Regions from separate parts of the Homo sapiens genome. Here region 2 is linked to region 1. The links come from fine-mapping of genetic effects on gene expression. Tissue or cell type: atrial appendage. Region 1 holds a variant in brackets; the other region holds the start of a gene. All regions are shown on one strand. Distances are between the middles of the regions.

Evidence for each region. PIP is the estimated chance that this variant, and not a neighbour inherited with it, causes the effect.
Region 2: FAM216B starts here. The variant in region 1 is the best candidate, but not a certain one, in a credible set for the expression of FAM216B in atrial appendage (GTEx, PIP 0.81).

What each region holds. Positions count from the first base shown.
Region 1 is chr13:42,717,763-42,722,895 of GRCh38, forward strand. It overlaps LOC124903164, which reads right to left. Exons shown (of 3, transcript XM_047430822.1): 2 at 2,789-2,939. Among named protein-coding and RNA genes, the nearest start is that of FAM216B, 61 kb to the right of the region's middle. RefSeq lists an enhancer at 2,870-2,919. The variant G/A (reference allele first, on the strand shown) is at 2,894.
Region 2 is chr13:42,779,463-42,783,989 of GRCh38, forward strand. FAM216B (family with sequence similarity 216 member B) reads left to right here and starts at 2,122. Exons shown (of 4, transcript NM_001318932.2): 1 at 2,122-2,202.

The sequences.
Region 1 (5,133 bases):
TTAAAAAATACGATGTTTAGGGTGGAGAAGCAGCAGAGTAGGACTGCTGGCATTGGCAGGATCGGCATCTTCTCAATGGTTTTCAAAGTATGTTCTCCACATCGACAACTTCATCCTCATCTGAGAAGCCCCTAGAAATTCAGATTCCTGGGCCTCATCCCAGAGCTGCTGGATCAGAAACTCTGGAGGGAGGCCCAGCACTATGTGTTAACAAACCCTCTGGGAGATGCTGATGTGTACAGAAGTTTGAAAAGCATTAGTCTGCAACAATTCAGCTTCAGCCACGAAATCACATTTGCCATTCAGAAAACCCAAAGTCTTACCCTACAAAGCCCATCTACCTACAAATCTTAGAAGATGACATGGCAAGCATTTATTGTTACTCAAGCATGTGCTTTGGGGACCCCACACTTTACCCCTACCTTTGCCTCTGCTACCACTACTACCATTAACTCTCCCTGAAAGGAATCTTGTTAAATACAAAATCTTTTCTATTCTGTTCCATTTCCAGTGATATTTTAATGTCCATGAGGTATTGGTATCCTGACCCTGCTGGCCTTTTCTGGTTCTATGTGACAAAGTGGCAACTCTACTGGGCTGTTTGGAAATCTTCTAGAGTGGTAGTGGGGAGGATAGGGAGGAAGGTTTTTCTGCTTACACATCTGTTGGCTGGTTTGTTCACCACTATTTCCCTAAAAGTAGTTATAATTATAAATTTTGTAGTATAGTTACTGCTGTTTGGGGAAAACCGGAGACTTAGATCATAGAATGTGATATGGTTAAAGGGTCAAGTTTTATGTAGATAATGTTTTCATTTTAGTTTATGCCAAAATAAAGATTTTAATAAATAAATAATAAAATAATAATTAAATAAGTAAAATAAATTCTTGACAGATTACATACTATACACTTGGAAGAAGAAGGAGGAGAAAGAAGAGGGCAAAAAGGGGAGAAAGAAGAGGAGATTACACATATAATGCTTTGGTTGGGCCAGGTACTATACTGAATACTTTACATCTATTGTCTCCTGTAATTCTCAAGACAAATTTCTAGGGTAGGGCTTATTATTCTCCCTATTTTACAGAGGAGAAAGTTGAGGTATTGAGAGATTAACAAACATGAGAAGGGTTCCATAGTCACATAATTACATAGCATTGAGGTGTGTGGTAGAGTAATGGGTGAGCTATAAGACCGGAATGATTAGTTGGGATCAGGTTGTAAGGAGAATTGACAGCTATGTAAGGAGTTTCTAGTTCAAATTATGAGAATGGTACACTGGAGAGACACCTTGGAGATACTTTGAAGATAAAATTGATCTGACTTAACAATCAGATGGTAAGAAATGGGGGGAGTCTTTAGCTGAAGCAACTGCGTCTGATGGTGTCACTCAAGGAACAAAGGAGGAACGAGTTTAAGGGCAGAAGGAGCCGATGTGTTTAGTTCAATTACACCAAGTTTTGGGTGCCTGTGGGACACATGCAGGTAGAAACTTCCAGTTGGAAATATAGCTGAGGCTCAGAAGCCAGGTTAAGTCAGGAAGTATAGACTTAACAGCCATCAGCAGAGTGATTAAAAAGTCTGGCCCTCTGCAACGATGGAAGTGGTGCTATCACCGGGAAGAAAATGTAGAACAGGAAGGGAAATGGATCTTGTGGGAAATGACTAAATGGAAGAGGTAGAGAAAGACAAAGCTTTGAAAATCATTATAAAATAGTGGCTAGAAGGTAGTAAGAAAATGAAAAGATGATAAAACTGAACATCAAGTGAGGTGATAATTTCCAGTGCCCCATCAAACCTATGACTGTGTTGGGCTCATGGAACCTTGAGCAATGGAAGTGACACTGAAGTCCAGGCATCCATCTGTGACCAAAAACACCCTGCCTAATTCTGTAAATATTCTGAGGTCCTTTTACTACCTATATTGTTACTCTTCATCGGCAAGGTGCTGACCAAAGTAATATTGTAGAGCTACAAAATAATAATTATTAACATATTCATCCTAAATGAGCTAACAGATAGCTAATCCAAAATAATTCTGTAGTGAGAAACCCGAATTATGCAATCTTTAAATTCTATTCTATTATATCGTGCAGTGACAAAAAATGGTGGTTAATGGAAAATTGTCAAGTGAGACTTGCTGGAGAGGGCTGCTTTGGCGGACAAGAAAGCAAGAAATATCTTTGCTTTTGCAAACAGACACCACTAGAAGATGTAAAGAATTTTTAGGTGCAGATTAAAGAGCCTCTTTGCAATCTCATTTACAGTTTTTCTTTACTTAGGAAATTCTTTTCCAAGGATAATTCAAAGACTTTAGCCTCATTTTAAAAAACCATAATTTTTTGTTGGTTAGCCCAGATTGATGAAGTCATATGAAATTTTCTGCCTCATTGTGCCTGTATGACATTTTTCCTACTCATTCCTTTTTTCCCCCCTTCCATAGCCTCCTCAATTCCTTCTTGCCACCCCTTCAGATTTAGACAGACCGTCTCTTCAATTCTGATGGCAACATTTCACACTAAATAACTATATACCCTAGCGTTGCCTCTCACACGTCCAGGTGATTGGCAGATACTTGTTTAGAGGATTGGAAACAGCTAAAAGTGACATTCAAGGATTCAAAAGCAGCTTGGTTGGGAAATAAATCTTTGGCTGGGAAAAATGACTCTCTTTGCCAGACAATAGCCTTATAATTTATCATTTATTGGAAAAGAAGGATGCATTTTGAGAATTGCATCAGACTAAAACTGATTACAGATATTAAGCAACGTCTCTATGAGCCATTACTCACCGCGTATGTGAGAGCTGAGTGCCTCTGGAAGGCGGGAGCTGATGAGTCACTGAGTGTGCTATTGCACCATCATAATTGTTAGCATCATAAACAATGGTATATGAC[G/A]GGGTAGAGCAGATTAAAGAGAATGAAGTGTCTTGTGCAGTTCCCTCTAGAAAGAAGAAACGAGACGTTATTTCACTGTGACGTTAACTATTGATTCAGGTTTTTGTTTGTTTGTAGCTCCTAGTGGTTATGATAACTCAGAAGCAGTATTCATGGCTTATTCATTTCGAAAGCCACCACAAGTGATGGTTTAAGCTGTTCCAACTTTGTGTTGTTGTTTTTGAAATAAAAGAAAGGCTTTTTCTTTTCAGTGTTAGGAAAAGGGAAGACATTCAAGAGAGCTGAACCAAGCGCTAAGTATCCTGAAGATCTAAGATCTAAGGACCCTGAAGACCTTAGATCTGGCTAAAAATTATACCAAGAAGCAAGTGCTGTTATAATCAGAGGGATAGGGCAACGCTGAGCAGTGAACTCACAGAGCACTCATCCATTCCTTTCTGACATTTGTCATTTTTTATCTATGTTGTATTTATTTAAGATCATGTTTTAGTTACATATTGTAACTAAAATATCTCAAAACAGAGATTGTGTATAGTATTTCTCAAAACAGAGATTGTGTATAGTATAGAAATACTATAAATATCTCAAAACAGAGATTGTGTCTTAAAAAGTTTTGCTCTCTCCTCAGAACCTAGCTCATTTAGTAACTTGTTATTGCTGAATAAAAACCAATTTATTGATAAATGAATGTCATGAGTCACTGTATTTATTACAACTCATCTCCATTTCCTTAATTCTGTGAAGATACAAAAGCTAGATTAGCCAGTGCTGCATAAGAGTAAACTAGGATGGTTCTCGGAATGGGCACGCGTAATTGTTTATATTTCTTTCTACCAGTCTTTAATTTATATTATTTAAAGAAGTGCTGATACTTAATAGCAAACGTATCTTTTGGAAAGAGTTTTACTTTAGATGAAAAAAGTACACCTTCTGGAGAAAACATTTTAATGTCATGCCTTTCAGGCACCCACACCTTCCTCTTCAGAATATGAGGCAGTAATTATGACTACATAATTCCCTCTGGGGAAGCTAATTAAATGTGGATATTTGCTAAGGAAAAATAGAGAGCCTATGAGTATAAACTCTGCAAATGCAAATATATAAAGGATCACAAATTCACACTAGTGCATTCTGTTAGACAAACATTTCTGCAAACAGCAAGGCTAGCCCTTGAAAAAAAACTGTGGAACAGCCAGAGGACAGCTTGAAGATCCCTAAAATCTTCTTTCTGGACACCTCCTCACTACACCATAATCATCTCTGGTTATACTTATGTTCTTTCTTAACTTTTCCATATTAAAAACCTGCTATATTATTATATAGTATTAACTAGTATGACAGTGACTTTCAGTAACAGTGGTTAAACAATCAGAAATTTATTTCTAGTCCAAAAGCCAAAACTGGAGCTGCAGCTCTGCTCTGTGAAGCTGTCAGGAGCCCAGGCTCCTTCTGCCTTGTTGCTGTGATATCCCTAGAGTGTTCTCATTATTGGTCTGTTGGTCTCATCAAAATGGCTCCCTACCCTATCGGCATTCCAGCTAGTGGGAAGGATGGAAAAGAGTTAGCAGAGGGAACTCGGAATTCTCCTTTTCTTTAAGAGCAGGACTTGCAAGCTTCACGCATCACTGACTTTCTTACTCCATTGGCTAGTCACATGATTTTCCTTAATAGAAATATCCTTTTAAATATAGATCTAAGCTCACAAAAATGGAAGGGAAATTCCTCATGGACAAGTTGAAAAATAAACTGTGCAAGCAGAGGGGTAAACAAAAGCAAAACTGTAAGAGCACTGTGGGCATTAGTGGACCTTGCTGTCAAGATACTTAAGAGCGACATGAAGGACAGGAGACAAGACCTAGGCCCATGCAATGTGAGTAGCTGGGAGTGACACTCCACATCCAGCTGGGAACCTGAAAGGGTTATAATCTTGATGAAGGCACGTACTAGAAAATGATCCACCTAGGCTCTAGATGCGGGGGGGTGGTGGGGAAGGCTTCATTGGACATTAGTAATAAAGGCTTTCCCTCAGATAGATCTGGGATTCAAATTCGTATTACCTACAAGATCCCAAGCCAAGATACCTAGTTCAAGGGGTGCTGGGTTGATAGGACCTTGTGACCACTTTAACCCTTTCTGGAGAGACCCACCCTCTATGCAGGCTTCACAAAATCTTCATAGATAAATTAAATGATTGTCAACCAAATACTTACCATATTAAATTTTCATTCAGACATGAGGGC
Region 2 (4,527 bases), 61 kb after region 1:
GGAGTCCCTCTTCCTCACTTGGTATCACTCATGAGGTCACATTTACCCTGATATTCCATGAAAACACTTTATCACCCACCTTCTAAACAGCCAATGTCTTAAGCAGTGAGTCTCATTGCTGTACCAATATTTTAACTGTGAAATAGTACAACTTTTCTACTAATAGTTGACATTGTATTCCCTATAGTAATTAGATTATGGGTGTTTCTTTCCCATTTTTTTTGTAATCAGTTTAAATCCTTTTTGAAATGTTAAACTAGTCTTTGGGAAAACATTTTTTGTCCCAAACTTAGGATATGCATTACTCCCTCATTCTTATATTTTAAAATATGTCTACAAATTTAGATCTCATTCTTTGATACCATCTACATAGCTAGTTTTATCTTATTTCCTCTTTTCTTATAAATTGACAACTTTCAGTGATGTTAGGTAAACATTGACTGTATGTCTAAGTCCTTCATCCTCCTGCCTGACTTCATAGGTCCCAAAGGTACCTCTTAGATTTGTGTTTGTGTTAGAGAGTGTCCACCATCTGTCGGCCTCATGTTGATTCTTCTATACCCTTCTGTTTATCAGAGTAGTAGGAAGACTGCAAAATACATTTCCCAAAATCCCTTGCTAGCTGGCATCCAATGGAGGGCAGGACATGAATGAAGGCTGGAGGGAAGAAGCCATTTTTTAAAAATACTTTCTGCTTGCACCTGTGGCAGTGCCAGCAGCAGCAGCCACATGGACAGCAACAGTGGTGACAGCAACAGCAAGATTAGCAGTTTGGGCAAGAACATAGAAGCAAGGGTGCCTGGTGAGCACAGGTTCCTGAGGCGCTGCTCAGGCAGCAGTTCTCCAAAGGAAGCAGCCTCTATGGCACAGTGTCCATGGGCTGTGGGTAAAATCATTTTCCCTATTGTCCTCCAGCTCTATGTGCAATCACAGTTTAGTGCAATTGCCAGTCCTTGGATAACCTAACCCTTCTTGTTTTACTCCTCTAACCCATTTCTATATTTTCATAACAGATTCCTTACATTAAATGCCCTCTGTCAAACACAGATCTGTTACTGTTCTCCTGATTGAGTAGCGTCCAAGGCAAGCTGGTAGGAATTTCAGCATGTGTGTGCAACATCAGCAGATGCAGTGCACCCAGAATGAATTTCATCATATCCTGGAAAAACGTTTGAGGAAGACTCGATTGACAATGTCAACTCTGCACACCACTGTTCTTTATCTCTTGGTAAAGAATCATCAACCTCTCAGATCCAGTGAAAGATTTTATGTTATTTACTGGCATTTAAAGACACTTGTTTGTGCTGTGCTTATTTCCCAGGAGGTCTGCATTCAAATTACTGGGGAAAAAATGCAAGACTTTTGCATCTGTTGAGCCCTTTCTTCTTTAAGGCATATGATTCATCACTCTCATCTCCCTGCTTTTTTCTTCCCCTTAGTCTCCTAAGAATTTTGAATGTATTTTCTTTTGATATTTCTTCTTCCCTTTTCTTTAGGAACTCTTCATCTTTGCAGATAAGCTGGCATTCAGAAGGAGGACACTTGAGAAAGAAAGGAAGCCAGTAGAATAATGCTATCACAGAAGAAAGGATGAGGTCAGTGTGGGCTCTAGTCTTACGCCACAGGTTAATTATCATCATATGTAGCCTCTAATTAAGATAAAATATGGAGAATATCTTATTCCCCCACAAAATGAAAGGGAACTTAGCTTAAACTATGGAATAATTTCATAGGTTACCACAGGCAAATTCATGCCCATACCTCTATATTCAGGAACTCTTCCTTCATCATCCTGAGCAATGAGGAAGGGGACTACTGACTCCAAATTTTGGAAATATTTATGTCATGGCCCATTGCCCTGATGGATTTGTTGACCTTTAATATTTAGAATCTCTGCCTCTATGCATGTTACCCCCGATATCTGCATGTAACACAGATATGGTAGATTTAGAAGATGACACTTGATTAGACACAAAATGTGGAAGAAAAAATATCAAACTGTGTAGCTGAATGTTACCCAGAAGTGAAGAAAGGCATGCAGCCAGATTTCCCCAGCTCTTTGTTTCATCACATGATGTTGCTTGGATATCAGCTTATCAACAGACTTCCACCACCACCACCAGCATATAAACAGAGTCCGCGTAAGAAAACTACACTGAATAGGAATGGCAGCTTTTAAAAGTGGGGGAACTACAGTATAGGGTAAGTTCTTTTTAGGCAAATCTGTCTTTTTGTTTCAGATATATTATTTTGTAGATGTTTCTCTCCCTGAATTCCATGAGTATTTTAATCAAATTTTATCAGGTATAGGCCACTTGAATAGGTAAGATAAATTTATTCAGCAGTAGCCCCAGAAAAGCACACATGAATTGTTGCCATAAGAAAGAGCATCAGTCATTTCTTTATGCTATTTGAGGAGAGAAGAAATCTTTCCAGCTTGAAGCATATTTATTCTCTGTTCTACAGATCTGGAAAATGGGAGGAGGGATATTGAAATGATTTGAGTACAGGATAGAGCGTAGGTGTCAATCACAGAGAATATTACAGGAGTATATCTTGGTTGGTATGGTTTCTGGAGTGCACATTAAAGGAAAGCAGTACTGACTAAAATATTTACAGTTTAATTTAGACATTTATATAGCAGAAACAGTACACACAGAGATGTTGACTAATGTTTTCCTAATAAATTTCTCTTCTGGAAGAATGGAACCTTCGATGTGTGAACTCAAATCAGTCTCCACATGTATTACAATACTCCTTAAGCATGTGTATGTTTATGAACCTATGAGTGTGCATGTGTTTGTGTGCATGAACATGCGTGAAGGTCGGGTAGAGAGAGAAGAAACTGGCATAAAGTGAGAGCATTCTATATTCACGATTTCAGTGAATCAAACACCCAGTGAGGTAGGCATTGTAACTGCTGTCTTAAGGATGAGAGGGCTGAGGCTTACAGAAGGAAAGAAACTCAAGTCTTTCTAGTTCTAAAGGCCATACAGCCTCTATTACAGTTTATTTTCTTCAGTTAATATACGTGCAGGTATTAATAATAATCTACGTTTAGCAGATTGTTACTATGTTTGATTTGCTGTGGTCTTACTTTCTATCATTCAGTAATTCACACTGCTAACAAAGACAAAGGAGTAAGCAGAGGGGAAAATACTCTGGGTTTGCACTTTGTGATTTGGCAACCTATTCCAATATGTCTATTCTTGCTGGATTGTTAAATTCATATTATTATACACACTTCAGACTCTAAACCCTAAATCACCAGGAAAGGAGACTTAATCATAGCAAATGTGACTCTATTATTCTGTATCTTTCTCAGGCAAGTGGAAACATGACAAGTTTAATAGTTTTATAGTACAATGCTATAAAATTGCACATCTAAATTGCAAGAAGTGGAGAATGACGTAAAGGCATACTACACTGCCACTAAAAATCATATTTTTAAGGAATATTTAATGATCTGAGAAAGTGCACAAAATGTATAAATTATGATCTCCCTTTTCTAAAATTACACACAATGTACACAGAAAAAAAAAATAAATAAATAAAAGGAAAGTGAAGCTCAGCATGGTGCCTCATACCTGTAATCCCAGCACTTTGGGAGCCTGAGGTGCAGGATAACTTGAGCCCAGGAGTTTGAGACCAGCCCAGGGAACATAGGGAGATCTTATCTCTACTAACAATTTAAAAAATAATTGGGTGTGGGGTGTGTACCTGTAGTCCCAGCTACTCAGGAGGCTGAGGTGGGAGGATGGCTTGAGCCCAGGAGTTCAAGACTGCGGTGAGCTATAGTCGCACCACTGTGCTCCAGCCTGGATGATAGAGTGAGACTCTGTCTCAAAAAAACATATAAATAAATAAACAAATAAAAGGAAATCAACCAAATGCTAACAATAATTATGGATAGTTAGATGCAAGTTGAGTATGCCTTATCCAAAATGCTTGGGACCAGAAGTGTTTTGAATTCCAGATTTTTTTTTTTTGATTCTGGAAAATTTACATTATCTTTGCCAGTTGAGCCTCCCAAATTCAAAAATCCAAAATCCAATATGCTCCAATGAACATATCCTTTAAGCATCTTGTGGGCACTAAAAAAGTTTTGGATTTGGAGCTTTTCAGATTTTGGGCTTTTAGATTTGGGATGCTCAACTTGTATGAGTAATCTTATTTTCTTCTTCAATTTTTAAATTTTTCCAAATCTTCCAAAACAATATATATTACTTTTAGAATCAGATATGAAAATCAATATTATTTAAAATTATCAAAAAATTACTACTATAAAAATAGTATGCTCTACAACACACCTGTTCCAAACAGTTAGAAAGACAAGGGCTCTGAATTATTCCTTAACTTCACAAATAATTAATAATTATTTTTATATATAAAGGGTGAGAATAGGAAAATGTGTGGAATTAAGTAGTCTGGTGATGTCCAATTACTTGGAAATGTGAGCAAATGTTCTTATCCCTTAGAACAAATTACATTTTTAAAAATTCATTTACTTGCTTACTTATTTACTTA